Regions from separate parts of the Homo sapiens genome. Here regions 1, 2 and 3 are each reported to be linked to region 4. The links are microRNA targets in miRTarBase. Many come from high-throughput screens and were not tested one by one. Region 4 holds a microRNA gene; each other region holds the end of a gene's coding sequence.

Region 1 (4,000 bases), not on the chromosome of region 4:
TGTATAGCACTGTTAATGTTTTAATATAAAATAGAATATACAGTTCATTTTATTTTAGAATTAGATCCATGGTAAATGATATTTTGGTGAGTCAACTTTCTAAATGTATAAAAATATATTTTATTTTTCAGGGGTATTTCATTTCTGCTTAATAGAATGTAACAAATGTTCTATTACAAAGCAAATTATAATATAAAACATGTTATAATTGAAAATACTTGATTTTTTGAAATCAAGATTATTTTCATTACCTGTCAGTCTCCTAGAGTTTGCGTTAAAGGAGCAAATTGATCTTTCCTTATGCTACTTTTTTGATGTCAAAAATTCATTTATTATTGTGCTCAGATGACTCCTGGTCTCCATCCTGGATCCACTCTGATTCCAATGAATAATATTTCTGTGCCGCAAGAAGATGATTATGGGTATCAGTGTTTGGAGGGCAAAGATTGTGCCAGCTTCTTCTGTTGCTTTGAAGACTGCAGAACAGGATCTTGGAGGGAAGGAAGGATACACATACGCATTGCCAAAATTGACTCTTATTCTAGAATATTTTTCCCAACCGCTTTTGCCCTGTTCAACTTGGTTTATTGGGTTGGCTATCTTTACTTATAAAATCTACTTCATAAGCAAAAATCAAAAGAAGTCTGACTAAATTCAGTAGAATCTTTTGTGCTTCAGTAACTTGAAGTTTAAATTTAAAATGCAGAGAGACCAATGGTTAAAATGTGAATAGTATTGTAACTATTTTAAGGCCTTCAGAAGTAAATAAAGTAGCAGCTTTCAGGCTAATTTACGTGAAACTGATTAGTTGCAAAATCCAGTAGGTTAAAATACTCACATATTTTTACTTAAATTTTCTTTAATTTACTTATATGTTATTATAATTTTGAATTTTTAAGTTCTATGATTCATGTTTTAAAGATGGAATAATTTTAATACATATTTTGTTTAAATATAATCTATAATTGTTTTGTAATGTAAGACTAATTACTAATATTTATGTAGCAACTTTTGTGCCAGAAAAAAGACTGTTAATTTGTTTTTTCTTGCTTTTCATTTGATTACCCTGCTTGAAATACAGTTAGTTGATAACATAAAGCCATAGTTTTCTTGGATTTTCTTCCAAGATATTGTATTCCCAAGAAGAAATTGATTTATTTTTAAACTATCAGTTACTGAAGACTTATGAAAAGGTCAATTTTTACCTGTCTTTTAATCCAGTCCATTTTCTGACACAATATTAAACAGAACGCCAGTTGCATTTACTTTGGTGATTTGCAAACTTGGAATGAAGCCACCAGTCATTTTTTAAGAATGCAAGATGAAAAAATCAGGTAAAATCTAACCATTTTATTCTCTGCTTCATAGCATTTATAATGTATGATGAGGTTAACACTGAAATATTAAAATCTGCAAATGCACATTAATGCAAATTAAATGCAGAGAGAAATGATTATTTTTTTCTTTATGTTTTATGAAAGTGTTGCAGTCCCTAAAATAAAAATATTGAGGAACATTGCTTGTATTTACTCACGTGGTTAAAAAATTATTACCTGGCAAACTGAGTTGCCGGTCATATTGAGGACAAAATCTTAAATATGTGCTATTAGCATTGTTTTTAGACTAGTAATATGCAGAAAACAGTTTTAGGCCTGCGTTACATATTGCCTCTTCCAGCTCCAAAGTTTTGGACCCTGTCAGTTTTGCAACTACATTATACATTATTATAATATTCTTTTTTTTTTCTAGAAACTGGGGGCAGCCTCAAAATCATGTTAAAGAGGGAGTTTTGTTAGAGGCATCTTTAATGAACATGAATGTGAGTGCTCTCTAAATTCTTAGCATCTCACTGGATGTAAAATCTATCAGTTAATAGTTTTAAAAATGTCTCTTTTGTTAAGAATAAATTTAGGCTTCAATCATTATAATCCTGTAAGTAGCTTGACATACCAATTGTTTATAAGATTCATCACATAAATTTCTGGAGAACCACCAGGTTTAGCTTGGAAATAACCTTTAAAGATTGTTTCTGTTGCCAAGACCAATGACCATGATGAAGAGTTTTATGATCACAGCCTATCTTACTTAAGGTTTGAGAGGAAACCTGTCACCTCTGCAATTGTTACTCTAGTTTTTAATGTTATAATTCCGCTGCGTGGTTAGTGAATGTCTGGCATGATTATACACGTGTATTGGAAATATCTAGTTTTTTAAATTTTTAATTAATTTATTTATAATTTACTGTGTGTTCCCAGCTAACTCTATTTTTTTTTTCACTTGCTCATAAACTTCTGGAAAAAAATAAGCATGAATCAAATGGTAATGCCCAATATCCACCGACACTGCTTTTCTTGAATGAACAGCCAAACTAAACTTTGGCCATCTATATATTCATTTACAGATTATTCATACATTCATTTTAATAACATTGAGTACTGATGGATGTTTTGAAAGTGAGCATTCATTTAAGGATAAATAAAAAATAAAGTAGTAATAAAGAATAAAATACTTTACTAAAATATTGTATGGCTATTTTCATGTTTGAAGCTATAGCTTACTATCATGAGACAGTTTTGATTTTGGGACTCTTTCAAGTGTATCTGAGCATGACTGTATTTTAAAATACTTAAAAGTGCTTGATATAAATAGCTTTTCCTTCTGAACCACGTTCTATGTAAAAGAAAAAAAATAGCTTTGATTTTCTCACTGGTGTTTCATTAACTTGGTTTTAAATGTTGACAATATTTACAAGTGGAAATAAAATTTGTAAATATATGAAAGATGCCTTTCCTTGTATATACCATCAAGCAAGCACTTTGTTTTCAAAGCAAGTGGTATTTTGATCAGTTTTATTTAAATGTGTGATCAGAAAGAATGGCGTACAAATCTTATTATTTCTAAAAATAAGAATAAAAAGGTAAAACTACATTTAGACTTCTTTCTCAAGAAATCAAATACAGCTTTTTTTCAAAGCTGATTCAGTTCATTTCCTGTTCCTCTATTCCAAGTATAAGTTTCACCACCTTGAGAAATAATTTTTTTAAAAAATCTTCCTCTTTCTCTGGGGAGTTATATAATAATTTATTGAATTTATTGGAACTTGATTTTCCTGGATGCTTTCAATGTTTTTAATGCTAACATAGACCCCAAAATTAGATATAAAGAATTGGGAAGGATACCTGGAGCACAAGGAATAAGATCATTTGTAAAAATGTTTGTTTATATAGACCTATCCTCTAAATATGTGACAAGGATCTAGAAATTCTGAGAGGGGAAAATGTGATTTTGGATTTACAATGACAGGGTAATATTTTATTTATCTTCGAATTCCATGGACAAAATTAGGCTCACTTAAATTAATTTTTGTAAACCCAAGTAAGTTCTAAAAAAAAGTAAAAAATACATAGAATACTTGAGAATTTAGCAGGGACAGGGAAAAATTTCCCAGTAAGTCTGAAGTCTTGATGTAAGTGGGAATTAGATAACTAATTGGAGGCATTTTATTTTAAGTTAAAGACAGATTTCTTTAATAAGTTTTTAAAATTGATCAACTTTAAATTAAGCACAGTAAATGTGTATAAATATGAAGGCAATCATAAGGATTTTTTCACTTGTGTTTCCATATTCTGGCATTAGTATATCATCATAAAATAGACAATGTTTTTGTCTCAAGAACAAGAATAAAATTGAAATCTGCATTCATGCCAATTCAGCATAAAAAAGAATAGGCTACAGTTCTCTCACACCAAGGGCCCCATAGTTATAAATGTGAAATTATATTCCAGGTCAAAATTTGTGAAAAATACACAAAACACTTTGATTTTACAAGAGAGGAGCTTTAAATAAGATGATTTTAGTAGATTGAAATAAATAACCAGTATTTAAGTAAATGTATAACGAATGAATAAATACATGCATAATATTTTCAAAGTTCTATACCAGTACCTATTTTTACTCTTACAAAATTTCCTGTAAAAAAATACTACATTTGAAATTATTT
Region 2 (4,000 bases), not on the chromosome of region 4:
ATGGAGTTTCGCTCTTGTTGCCCAGGCTGGAGCAGAGTGGCTTGATCTCGGCTCGACACAGCCTCCACTTCCCAGGTTCAAGCGATTCTCCTGCCTCAGCCTCTTGAGTAGTTGGGATTACAGGTGCCTGCCACCACGCCTGACTAATTTTTTGTATTTTTAGTAGAGATGGGGTTTCGCCATGTTGGGTAGGCTGGTCTCGAATTCCTGACCTCAGGTGATCCACCCGCCTCGGCCTCCCAAAGTGCTGGGATTACAGGTGTGAGCCACTGCGCTAGGCCACTACTGACTTTCTTTCCAGAAAAGACTCATTCTCCTAAGGCAGGACATGCTGTTGTTACATTATTACATTTTATAGCCCTCAGGGCCTACTAGGCAGACTAATCCCATGATGCGATTTGCCACAAGTAAAGCACAGAATAGAGTCAGGCAGGAATGACAAAGGAGTCAAAGGAAAAACTAGGCAATGGAAGCCTGGGCTGCGGAATAACAACTTGCAACTTCACAGACATCTCATCCCTTCTCCAGACTAGAGAAGCCTTAGGGTAAATCCTAGCTCTGACACTTACTAGCTGTGTGAATTTGGGTAAATTACTTAACCTCTAAACCATTTCTAATCTGTACAAAATCTTGTAGTATCTACTTGCTTCTTCAGTTGTGGGAAGGGAGATACAGCAGAAAAAGTGTTTGGCACAATGCTGGTTTACAGCAGCCCTCAACCATCAGTGGTGCTATTATTTTCCGCAAGAAGGTGAAGGGCCATAAAAGGCCTATACAGCTGCTGAAGTTCATTGCTAAAGGTATCCAAGGCTCAAATATTTCAAGTGCAAGCTAGACATGAAATTCACAGCTATCTCTGTGAATCACCCTTGATTCCTTCACTCCCTGTGAGTTAGTCACATACACTGTAGAAATGCTGTTACTCAGGCCCTTCCTATTTACCAGGACTTCATTTTAATGTAGACGCTTTCCTGTGTGGTTTGTTCAGAAAGTCTTCTAAATCTGTCCTAATTGCCAAGTTATTTAACCCCTGCCTAACCCCCCACCACCAGAAAACCCCCCCATAAAAGCAACTTGCTTAAAACTTTCTCTCAAGTCTCCCATGCCTAGTAGGTAAGGTCTGAGTATTTTACTTTAGCATACAAGGCCATTCACAACCTGAATTAACATGGTTTTCTGAGCCTTACTTGTCACTTCCAACTCTCCAATCTAACACATCTTTCCTGTTCTTCTAACATATTTCAGTCTTTCAAACCTTCTCATCATCATGCTCTTCCCTCAGTCTAGAAGAGATGACTTTCTTCTCTACCTCACAAAATCCTACTCAACCTTCAAGACTTAGCTAAAACGCTCTTTTAAATGAAGTCTTTCCTTCAGGCTTTATATATATATATATATATATATATATATATTTTTTTTTTTTTTTTTTTTTTTTTTGAGACAGGGCTTTGTCTTACTGTCCAGGCTGTAGTGCAGTGGTGTGATCATAGCTCATTGCAGCCTCAATCTCCTGGGCTCATGCAATCCTCCCGCCTCGGCCTCCAGAGCAGCTGGAACTACAAGCACATACCACCACGCCCAGCTAACTTTTTTTACTTTTAGTAGAGATGAGGTTTTGCTATGTTGCCCAGGCTGGTCTTGAATTCCTGAGCTCAAGTGATCCTCTTGCCTTGGCCTCCCAAAGTGCTGGATTACAGGTATGACTCACCATGCCCAGCTTACAACTTAATTTTCAACACAGCACTCAACAGAACATTCTATTTCTTATGTCTGCCTTGCCCAATAGCCACTTTTTTTTATTTCAATCATTTTTCTATTTGCCCCACTGTAGCAGTAACACATTTGAAAGTACTTTGTGAAAGTGTAAATTTTAAGGGATTATACCAGTACATATACTGATCTGAAAGAGAAATGGGAAGACTGAAGGCAGAAAATGATGTGGCTTCTTTCCCTTTACCAGTTCAAGGTCTTCATAAATTTTTCTTTTTTTTTCTGTAAAAAAAGAGATGGAGTCTCACTATGTTGCTCAGTCTGGACTTTTGAACTTCTGGGCTCAAGTGATCCTCCTACCTCAGCCTCCCAAGTAGCTGGAACTACAGGCATGTGCTACCATGCCTGGCTTAGATTCTGACCTTAGCAGTCATTATATGAAGGATAACCAGTTTGTAACATGGCCTAAAATAAAATGAACAGTTCTCAGGCAGCCCACCCAAGGAAATTCACACATAATGAGAAACCAGAGATGTGTTAGAGTTAAAAGGGTAAGTATAAAAAGTTTTACTTTTTTTGTGTAATTTTTAATACAAGACATCTAAAGTCTTAAACATTAAGTTGATCCCATCAGGAACAAAATATGGCACGAAGTTCAGAAACAAGAACATCTTTTTTTTTTTTTTTTGCACTTAGGCTTTTCAGTCACTATGCAATGATTATCGATTCGCCAAGGACAGTAACAGTCAAATACTAGAGAAAAGGAGATAGGAGAAACATCTTTTATTTCTTCTAAAGAGGTGAAAATAAGATTTTTTTAATATTTCTCACTCATAAGATTTTTAAACTCTTAAAAATGCAATATCTTCTTTTCAAAGCACATGCCATCTTAAAAAAATCTTAGCAATGTACATTTGCACTCAAAGAAAAACATGCAGCGCCATTGTCTTCTGACAAAATTCTGCATTAAAAAACCCTATGCGACTTTCTGCAAATATATTCCCTCTTTATTATTCAGGGACTCCAAACCACAAACATTCAGTGCAATATTTATCGTTTCTTATTTCCGTAGGAAACACAGAACCAATGATGTCTTCTGACAACTGTTTCCTGATGGTTGAGCAACAGTCTCCCTTTGCTTTATTTTAAAGTACTTTTTTTAACTTGCTGATGTAAGGTATAATTGGAATTCATTAAAACTTGAGGATCCAATGGAGGGTGAAGAATGAAGGATGGAGGAGGAATACTTAAGGTCTACCCTGTGCCATAAACTTAGGAAAAAAATGTACACAGAAAAAAACGACAACCAAAAAACCTCAGATTTTATCAATGCACCCTTTAAAAAGTGTTTTTTTAATTTCTGAAAGCAGCTTAATGTGAATCAAAAGCAGTTCCTGAGCAACTGCAGTAAACAGTCTTTTAAAATATATATGTACATACACATGTACATATATGTGTGTGTGTGTATATATATATATTTGCAACTTAGCTCATTTGGTTCTGTCTTAATTTACCTCCCCAGCATTTAGTCCCTTCTTTCCTTTCAGTCTCCAATGTGCAAGTACAATAGCATCAGCTCTGGGAGTTGGCGTGGAGCAGATGTTTCTTATCACTCCTGTGAGGTCATCTGCTTGTCTGTCAGGCCAGGTTTCCAGAGTTGCTGCAGGTCATAGTTCTCTCAATCTCACAAAACCTGTAAGCATCATGGCCACCTCACGTTTTCTTCATCAGACGCCGTGACTGCCATGTGTGGAGCTTGTTGTAGGCTGTCTGGAGCATCTCTTCTATGTGACTTACCAACTGAAAAACACAGCAAGACACTTAACAACTGGGCAAAAGCAGGGGAAGTTAATCCTTCCAACCCAAATCTGGCACACACTTCAGAGTGTAGTTTCGGAGCTCCTCTGTATTTCCCCAGTCAATGAGGTAATGTGCAAGCCCTCTGAGAAGGTGCTGTCAGACACATTTTGTGTGGAAAGGAAAGACAGAAAGTAGGGGGCAGTGAAAAGGCTGCGGTTGTAATGGCTGTCCTGTCATTAACCAATAATAGGACAATATGAAAGTCACAATTGTGCTCCAGGCCTCAATTCCTTCTGTCAAACGAGGGGTCTGAACTATATCTGTGATTTTCTAGATTTGAATACTGGTCAGCCAACTAAGGCCAGGATGGTAGTATAAACTTTATTTTATTTTATTTTATTTTTTGAGACAGAGTCTTGCTCTGTCACCCAGGCTGGAGTGCTATGGTGTGATTTTGGCTCACTGCAGCCTCCACCTCACAGGTCCAAGC
Region 3 (4,000 bases), not on the chromosome of region 4:
TACTTTAGGCAGTAAGTGTGACCTTTTGCAGGTGACTACTTTAGTTCCTCATGTCCTCATTAGTAGATCAGAGAAATTCGACACCAAAACCCCAAAAGAAAAACCCCTTCTAATCCTCATTCCATGATTTTATGAATGCATGAAGTCCTAGGCCTGCGAAGGAATACTCATTCTCTTTATCCTGTGTTGATACCTCTCTGCTTCAACCTCCAACTCGACATTTGCCTATAGGATGTACTTGGACATTCAGCATAAACTACCTCACACCATTACTGAATTGCTTCATGTGCACATGTCCCATGCCACAATACCGGGGACCTTGTCTTCCGTGATATTTGTCCGCAGTGCTGTGACTACAGGAGGGAGTCAGTGAATGTCTGCATGTGTGTCTTTACCATCCCTCTTGAATATGCTCTAGGGTTAATTCCTAGAAGTAGAATTACTCTATTGAAAATTGGCAATATTTTTCATTCTAATATCTATTGCCAACATGGGAAAGCAAGTCTGGATGCCAGTCCTTGTTATATGCCCCTTGGGTAAGTTACGTAACCTCTTTAAGCTTCTGTTCACTCATATTTTAACAAGGAAAATTACAATATTTTACCTCACAAAATTGTAGTCAGCTTCTGGCTGTCTTAAACTCTGGTATATAGTAAACACTAAGTGTTGGTGTCCATCCTTAATTTGTAATAATAGGTCACTTGTTAGAGAAATGCACCTTACCATTTTCTTTTCTTTTCTTTTTTCAGTTATGACTCAAAACTTGAGATAAAGGAAATCTGCTTGTGAAAAATAAGAGAACTTTTTTCCCTTGGTTGGATTCTTCAACACAGCCAATGAAAACAGCACTATATTTCTGATCTGTCACTGTTGTTTCCAGGAGAGAATGGGAGACAATCCTAGACTTCCACCATAATGCAGTTACCTGTAGGCATAATTGATGCACATGATGTTCACACAGTGAGAGTCTTAAAGATACAAAATGGTATTGTTTACATTACTAGAAAATTATTAGTTTTCCAATGGCAATAACCCATTTATGAGAGTGTTTTAGCCTACTGGAATAGACAGGGACCACATCCTCTGGGAAGCAGATAAGCATAGAACTGATACTTGATGCACACTCGTAGTGGTAACTCATCCCTAATCAGCATTGTAAAGCAGGTGCCAGAGGTGGTTTGCTTTGTCCTTCCAAAGCAGGTGAGTCAGCCCCACCGAGAGCCAGGCAGCTTTGAGTGGCAGCGTGGTGCTAGCAGCTTCAGCGGAACAGGGTGAGAGTTAATTATGCAGTCTTCTTGACAGCGGCATTAATTTGGAAGGAAACTGACAAGTCATGGGTCAAGTTTCAGTGACTTCCTCCTTCCTCTGATGGCAGTATATAGTTTTCACATTTTAATTCCTCCTCCTGAGATGCACTATACTTAAAACCATTCTCTCCCCTGCTAACAGAAGGGTGTGAATCTGGTTTACTTTGAGCATTAGGATTTGCCCCTTTGGAATTCTGCACTCCAGTTACTTAACTTTCCCTTCAGAATACATGTGGAAAGAAAGAAAGAAATAGCGATGACTCCACTTTTGCCCCTGTGGCACCTTGAACAAAGCAGTTCTTCCCAAATTATACTTTTTTTTTTTTTAAATAAGGTGAGCAGGATGACTGGGGAGAGAGAAACATTTGACTTTGACTGCCTCCCCCATTCTTTGCTGTGAGCTGGAAAGTGTGCAGTTGGTCGTCTTTCTTCTCCTTTCTTTAGGATAGTAAGAGACTCACTCACTGCACTTCTGCTCAGTTGGCTTCTGCATCGGGATCACACAGCCATCAGCAGGACTGCCCAGTTGGTGAGCACACTCCATTGACCACGTGGCGCCAGCGCTTCCTCAATGCACATGATTGAGAGGAAAGAAAGTTCTCTTAGATGTTACTGCTTTTGCTCAGACTTTGCAAAAAAAAAAATATATATATATATGTATAAATATATAATTATTAATCACTTTTGTCCTTGAGAAAGTCTTGAATGAACAGAGAATTTATTCCATTGCAATATTTGATTGTATAGAGGCACACTGTTTCATCGACAGAAGAAGCAAAAAGGCTTTGTGTAAGTTTTTGGTACTATGTACCACCTCTGTTATTCTTTTAAAGCTGAAGTATTCATGTACTTAAACCATATTATATTTAATTGTGTTTGATTTTAAAATATATATATATGAATTCTATTTAAAATTGTGTCAACTTTCTGCTTTCAGGGCATTTATGGCTCTTCTGTTGAAATATATTGATCTTTCCAAATATTTTCATTTGCTTTCTAAAAACCCAGAACATGAGCCACTACTGGACTTTGCCTTGTGTTTGAAGTGTATGGCATAAACCCAAGGTTTTTATTAGTCATCTATGCTGTGATTAATTCATTTTGTTCTTTTAACAAAATATTTCCATCCACTTCACATTGCTTCAATCTTTAACAGAAAAGCAATATAAAGGTTATAGAATAAAATGTGGTTTTGGGCAACTCTTGCTGCCTCTGCATGTTTTGGAATAACAATTTCTACAAGACTCTAGGCTGTTTAAACTAGTGCTTTCAGTTAAGATAAATTCTAATCATTTCTTTGTATATACATTTTGTGCTTCTGAGCTAGAGATGCCAAGTAGTTGTAAACTGCTTATAAAGAGAATAGCAGCAAATTTGAGACTCGGCTACTTTTTTCTGCCCCACCTGCTTTGAGACACAGAAGCGGAGTGTGGCCCGAAATTATTAGCCAGATTTAATATTTGATCTAAAGTAGGTCCTTGTACTCATTTTAAAGTTGGAATTTGATTCCTCCAACATTGAGCACCCACCATGTTCCAGGCTCTGTGCATTGTGCCCACAAAATAAGATTCCCTGGTGGAGTTTTTATGGGTTCAAATAATCAGTTGAACACCCTTCATCTTTATCATGTTGTTGACATTGACACAAATTGTTTAAAAAGAAAAGATATTAGAGAGAAAGTGGTACCTTTGTAACTTGATGTGTCTTCATCATTCGGTAAGATTTGATGAAAGTAAAAAGCAAATGTCAGCCAAATCCAGTGAACAGCAATAAAACAGGGAGTAACTTTTTATAACTTTTTCTACTTGGATTTCAACATTCAGTAGAGCTTTTCGAAATGTAAGTAGTTTACAGTACTGGAGGTTTGACTAGTTCAGTAGGAATTTGGAGGGGAAGGTCATTCTGAATTGTAACAAAGTACAAACTTCTTTGCTGTTTTATTTAAGTACTGAGAGCTAAGCACCTGATGAAGTGACTGACCTCTCTCCAGTGACAGTGTTTGGGTACCTGCCTGACTTCAGGAGTGGGGTTTATGTTTCTACACAGTGACCTTTTCTCTCGCCCTCTCCTCCCTCTTGCCCACACACCAGTTGATTGGACCTGGGTTGAACTCCTGATCCAGACAGGCCCAAGACAGTTCTTAATGTTAAGAATTTTGGGGCCGGGCACGGTGGCTCATGCCTGTAATTGCAACACTTTGGGAGGCCGAGACAGGCGGATCACTTGAGGTCAGGGGTTCGAGGCCAGCCTGGCCAACATGGTGAAACCCTGTCTTTACTAAAAATACAAAAATTAGCTGGGCATGGTGGCGCACGCCTGTAATCCCAGCTACGTGGGTGGCTGAGACAGGGGAATCGCTTGAACCTGGAGGCGGAGGTTGTGCAATGAGCCGAGACCGTGTCACTGCATTCCAGCCTGGGTGACAGAGGGAGACTCTGTCTCCAAAAATAAAAATAAGAAAAAGAATTTTGGGCTAGGTGCAGTGGCTCACGCCTGTAATTACAGCATTTTGGAAGGCCCAAGATGGGCAGATCACTTGAGGACAGGAGTTCGAGACCAGCCTGGACAACATGGTGAAACTCCATCTCTACTAAAAAGACAAAAGTTAGCCAGATGTGGTGATGGGCACCTATAATCCTAGCTCCTCGGGAGGCTGGGGCAGGAGAATCACTTGAACCCAGGAAGCAGAGATT
Region 4 (4,152 bases):
TCATTATGTATCATGGCTTGGCATCTCATTTCTGAAAGCAATCGTCCAGCTCCACTCTTGCACACCCGTGGCCTCTCCCGTTCACCTCCGTCCCCCGACTGTTGGGGAGCGGGGCCCTGGCTGCAGTTCAGCTGGGACCCAGGGCTCTCCGTGTCCCCAAGGGGCCCAAGACAGCGGCTCAGCCTTCAGGGCCAGTCTGCAGGTCCGACCCTCACCCAGCGGGCCTGTTTCCCACTCGCCCACGTCCCCGCTCCCATTGAGTCACCCCCATATGCAGGCCCACTGTGAGCTCGGAGGCAGGAGAGCCTCGCTCCCTAATTCCCGCTCTCTGCCCCCTACAGAAAACCCCTAAAGGTCTCGACCCCTCTTAAGCCCCTCCACCCCGGGGAGCCTTCCCCTGCAGACTCCACGCTTCTGCGCGGCCTTTTGACCCCATTTCGCATGAAATCTGCAGAGCGACCGCCCCAAGGACCAGCGAGCGCTAATCAGATCCGTCTGTGTCTGCAGAGCTTCACCTGAGGCCTGGGTCCCCGAGGGCGGATGAGCGGGCCGGCTCTCGGGCCCGGGCTGGGGGACCCGCAGTCCGCGGTCGGCGGGGATGGGGAGGGGTGGCCGCCTGCCGCGCGGCTCCCGCGGGCCGTCGCCAGGTGCACGGTCCCCCTGGTCCCCCGCAGGGAGGACGCCCCCTGGTGCCCCCGCCGCCGCCGGGCCTGGGAGCTCCAGAGCGGGCGGGAGGCGGGGTCGGCGGGGCTGGATCTTGACGCCAGTCCAAGGCCGGGTGACTACTGGGGTCTGCCCGCGCCGCGGACGCGCCGAGCCCTCTCAGTGTGGCGCTGCCCGGCGGCGAGGGGGGTGTGGAACGAAGCACGGTCAAGACAGAAAACAAAGTCAGCAGGTCACCTGGCAGGTTCTGGGCGAATTATGCAACGAAAGCAGGGGAATGTTTGATGCGTCCCACTCCACACCCCCCCAACCTTTTTTTTTTTTTTTTAAGCTCCTAGGAAGCCGGTTCCAGTTTAAGGGTTGGGTAGGGATCGACCAAGCAGCTCCTCTGATGTGGTTACGACTTTGCCGAACTCCTCAAGGGCGAGCTTCCCTCCCCATCTTTCTTTCAGTAATAGGAACATTACTCTGGAGAAAAAAAAAAAAAAAAAACATGAATGGGGTGAAATGGTAGGCTTGATCCAAAAGCAACGCCGAGAATCACCCTACGACTTCCGTCAGGTACTGAACTGAATATTAGGCAAAAATAGTAAATGCCGAAACCTAAATCACACACATCCAATTTTTTTTATTTTTTTTTTAATCTCCCCGGGTCTCAGGACTAAGCTTTCAAACAGAATTTAAAGAGTTAACGCTGGCCATAGCTCTTTGTTTTCCATGCTAACATTTGTGGCATTAGGACTATTTTGTTAACTAGGTATATGCAATTCACAGAATTTCACGGTAAATTCCCCAGACCAAATATTTGGCTGAACAAATAAACAACATTATCCATTCCTGAAAATAAGCCAGTAGGAGCGGGGAGGATGGAGGAAGGGGCTGGTTGCTAGAACTGGACAGCCACAGGGCTCAGTACTGGCCCTAGGATAATTTGTTCAAGTACTGGAGATCTACTGGTTCCTTTTCAATGACATCGACGTTTCAGAAAGTTGCTAGAAATTGGGCAAAACAAAATGAGGCTGCCTGAGGGCAATCTATAAGGGGCTTCCCTAAATGATTTATTTGAGCTCCATACCATTAATCAAAGGGGCAGCGACCTGGGGGGTTGGAGGGGTGGGGGAAGGATCCCTTTTTGCGGGGAGTTTTGGAGGAACTGTGTAGTCTTGCTGCCTTTGCCTGGGGCTCTGATGTCTTCTCTCCACCTGCGCTCTCCGGGGAGCTGGGGTTTTGGCAACCACCCCGCTTCAATTTTTATTGGTTTCCACTAAGCTGCTCCTTTTGGAGGAGTGTAGGACTTCAGTAATTAAAAACAAAAATGAATCCTGCTTCACCCACTCCACTCCCAGGAGCGTATGTAAGAAAGTGTGTACAAGAATGCAAGGGTGCACACCCCACCTAGAAAAATGCAAACGCCAGGAGTGTGCACCACACACATTCTTTGGGTGCACACACCACCAGCAACAGCAATACTACCGCTCATATCTACACCTTCATGATGGAGAAATGCGCTATCAGCCTTCCCCACAGAGAACATACAAAGACACTAAATGTTTCTGCTCCAAAGGGATCCAAAGGGATCTTGGTCTGTGCTGGCTCACTTCATATGTGTGAATTTTCTCAGCACACATATGAAATGAGCCAGCACAGACCAAGATTCAAGGCTTAATTTAGTTGTTGGTGGCAAGTAAGAAAAAGCAAAGGCCTCTCCTCTGCTCCTCTTAATCCCTACACCCGTCATTCCAGAAAGGCATTTATCTGCCTGCTGGGAGCCCTTAACTGAGGGTACATTAGCATCCTCCTTTTTATTAACTTTGTCCAAAAATTGAGCTTTTCCCTTTAAGAAACCCTAGCACAGAACATCAGATCTACCTCTTTCTGCCCAAGTCCAGGGAAGAGGGTGTGAGGGAGGCAGTACAGAGCGAAAAGGAGAGTTGACATTTGACTCGAGATTTCTGTATAATAGTGGGACACCTTCACAGTGCCTGCTTAGAAATTCTGACCCTTTAGTATCTGACCCCATTGTCAACCCCCACCCAGCCCAATCTGTTGGGATCCTAAACTTGATGAAGGCCTTCACATTGGGAAAAGAGGACAAGGGAAAAAGTCAAGAAACAATGGGAAATTCTATCAAGTGGCATATTAAAACAGTAGTCATCAAACTTTTTGAAGGTAGGGTACATTATTTGTTACAAAAAAAAAAAAAAAAGACAAAATAGCAGTGCATGCCTGTAATCCCAAAGAGGCCGAAATGAGAAGATTGCTTGAGCCCAGGAGTTCAAGACCAGCCTGGGGCAACAAAGAGAGAACTTGTTTCAAAAAAAAAAAAAGACAAAAGAAAAAACAAAAGAGTCCTACCTGGAGAAAAAAAAAATAAGTTTAAAAACATGCCTTCACACACACATTATGATGTTAGTGTACAAATTAGTTTTGATTTGGAAATATCACATTGGTACCTGTAATAACTGGAGATACCCTGAGGTATCATGAAAGCAGAGGTGGGTATCATTTTTCTAGGGTTGAGACCTCATCACGCTCAGCTGTGATACACCTCAACAGGTGAGTGAAACAGAAGATGTACAAGGGGCCTGAAATGAAGTCTTTAATCTGACCTACACTCCTTTCATCCCAGTGTTTCTCCAAGGCATGTGTCATCCAGATGGGAGAGGATACTGCATCCTTGTTAACATTAAATAGAAATAGAAAACAATTCATGCTGGCAATTACCATCTCTCTCTGCCAACAGTTTACTTCCTGTCCCTACAACTTAACCACCTCCAGGTACCACCTTTTGACTTCCATCCAGCCTCCAACTCACCTGAACAGAAAAAAGCCTCATTCAAAAGAGATGAGCCCGAAGGAAAAGAGAAAGGATTAAGGAGAAAAAAAAAATCATGATTTACCTTTAAAATAATGACTCATTTTATTTTTTTCTTTTAATACGTAGTTATAAATATATTTTGTCAAAATATATGATCAATATGGTCAAAACATTTGCACGTAAAGTCATAAATAAGGTCAAGGTGAATGTTTAGGGATTTTTTCCTTTTTTTTTTTTTTTTTTAAATAAAAGTCCAGCTATAAGGAAGCAGTCTGTGTAGTGTGTGGGTGAGTGGATGGGAACGTGTGTGTGTGGTGTATGTGGTGTGTGTGTGTGGTGTGTATATCTGTCTATCCTCAAGGACTGCCTGATCTCAGCGGCACCCACATCCCTCTACTACCATCTCCTGATAATTTTTCAGTACCACCTTATCATACTCATCCAGGTACAGCATGGAGATGGCACTCAGTTCAGTGGGCACACAACAGGCTTTGGGGATACTGGAATTGACAGAATTGACCAGGGTCTGCACAATGGCATGGTTGGTTGAGTTGAGGTGGTCAGCCAGTGGAAAGGGGCAGTCCCCATGGCAGTAGAAGGCCTGGTAGCCTGGTGGGGCCACAATCCAGTCATTCCAGCCCACATCGCTGAAGTCCACATAGAGCGAGTGG

The links. The annotated mature microRNA hsa-miR-5580-3p reads CACAUAUGAAGUGAGCCAGCAC and lies in region 4 at 2,250-2,271, opposite strand. An mRNA with a match to its seed (bases 2 to 7 or 8) in the 3' UTR can be bound and repressed. Matches are read on the target gene's strand: a 7mer-m8 pairs with bases 2 to 8, a 7mer-A1 pairs with bases 2 to 7 and ends in A, and an 8mer does both.
Region 1: the mRNA of GABRG1 is a reported target of hsa-miR-5580-3p. The part of its 3' UTR that is shown has no 7-base or 8-base seed match.
Region 2: the mRNA of GTF2H1 is a reported target of hsa-miR-5580-3p. Seed matches in the 3' UTR shown: 7mer-A1 at 3,156-3,162.
Region 3: miRTarBase lists AKAP10 as a target of hsa-miR-5580-3p. Seed matches in the 3' UTR shown: 7mer-A1 at 1,961-1,967.

What each region holds. Positions count from the first base shown.
Region 1 is chr4:46,037,600-46,041,599 of GRCh38, reverse strand. GABRG1 (gamma-aminobutyric acid type A receptor subunit gamma1) reads left to right here. Exons shown (of 9, transcript NM_173536.4): 9 at 346-4,000. The coding sequence ends at 612. Among named protein-coding and RNA genes, the nearest start is that of GABRG1, 84 kb to the left of the region's middle.
Region 2 is chr11:18,365,293-18,369,292 of GRCh38, reverse strand. It overlaps GTF2H1 (general transcription factor IIH subunit 1), which reads right to left. Exons shown (of 15, transcript NM_005316.4): 15 at 2,248-3,510. The coding sequence ends at 3,424. Among named protein-coding and RNA genes, the nearest start is that of MIR3159, 20 kb to the left of the region's middle.
Region 3 is chr17:19,902,982-19,906,981 of GRCh38, reverse strand. AKAP10 (A-kinase anchoring protein 10) reads left to right here. Exons shown (of 15, transcript NM_007202.4): 15 at 750-2,680. The coding sequence ends at 755. Among named protein-coding and RNA genes, the nearest start is that of ULK2, 37 kb to the right of the region's middle.
Region 4 is chr14:53,946,178-53,950,329 of GRCh38, forward strand. It overlaps MIR5580 (microRNA 5580), which reads right to left and starts at 2,307; the gene lies at 2,250-2,307. BMP4 (bone morphogenetic protein 4) reads right to left here. Exons shown (of 4, transcript NM_001202.6): 4 at 3,559-4,152. The coding sequence ends at 3,855. RefSeq lists enhancers at 1-171, 172-702 and a silencer at 673-722.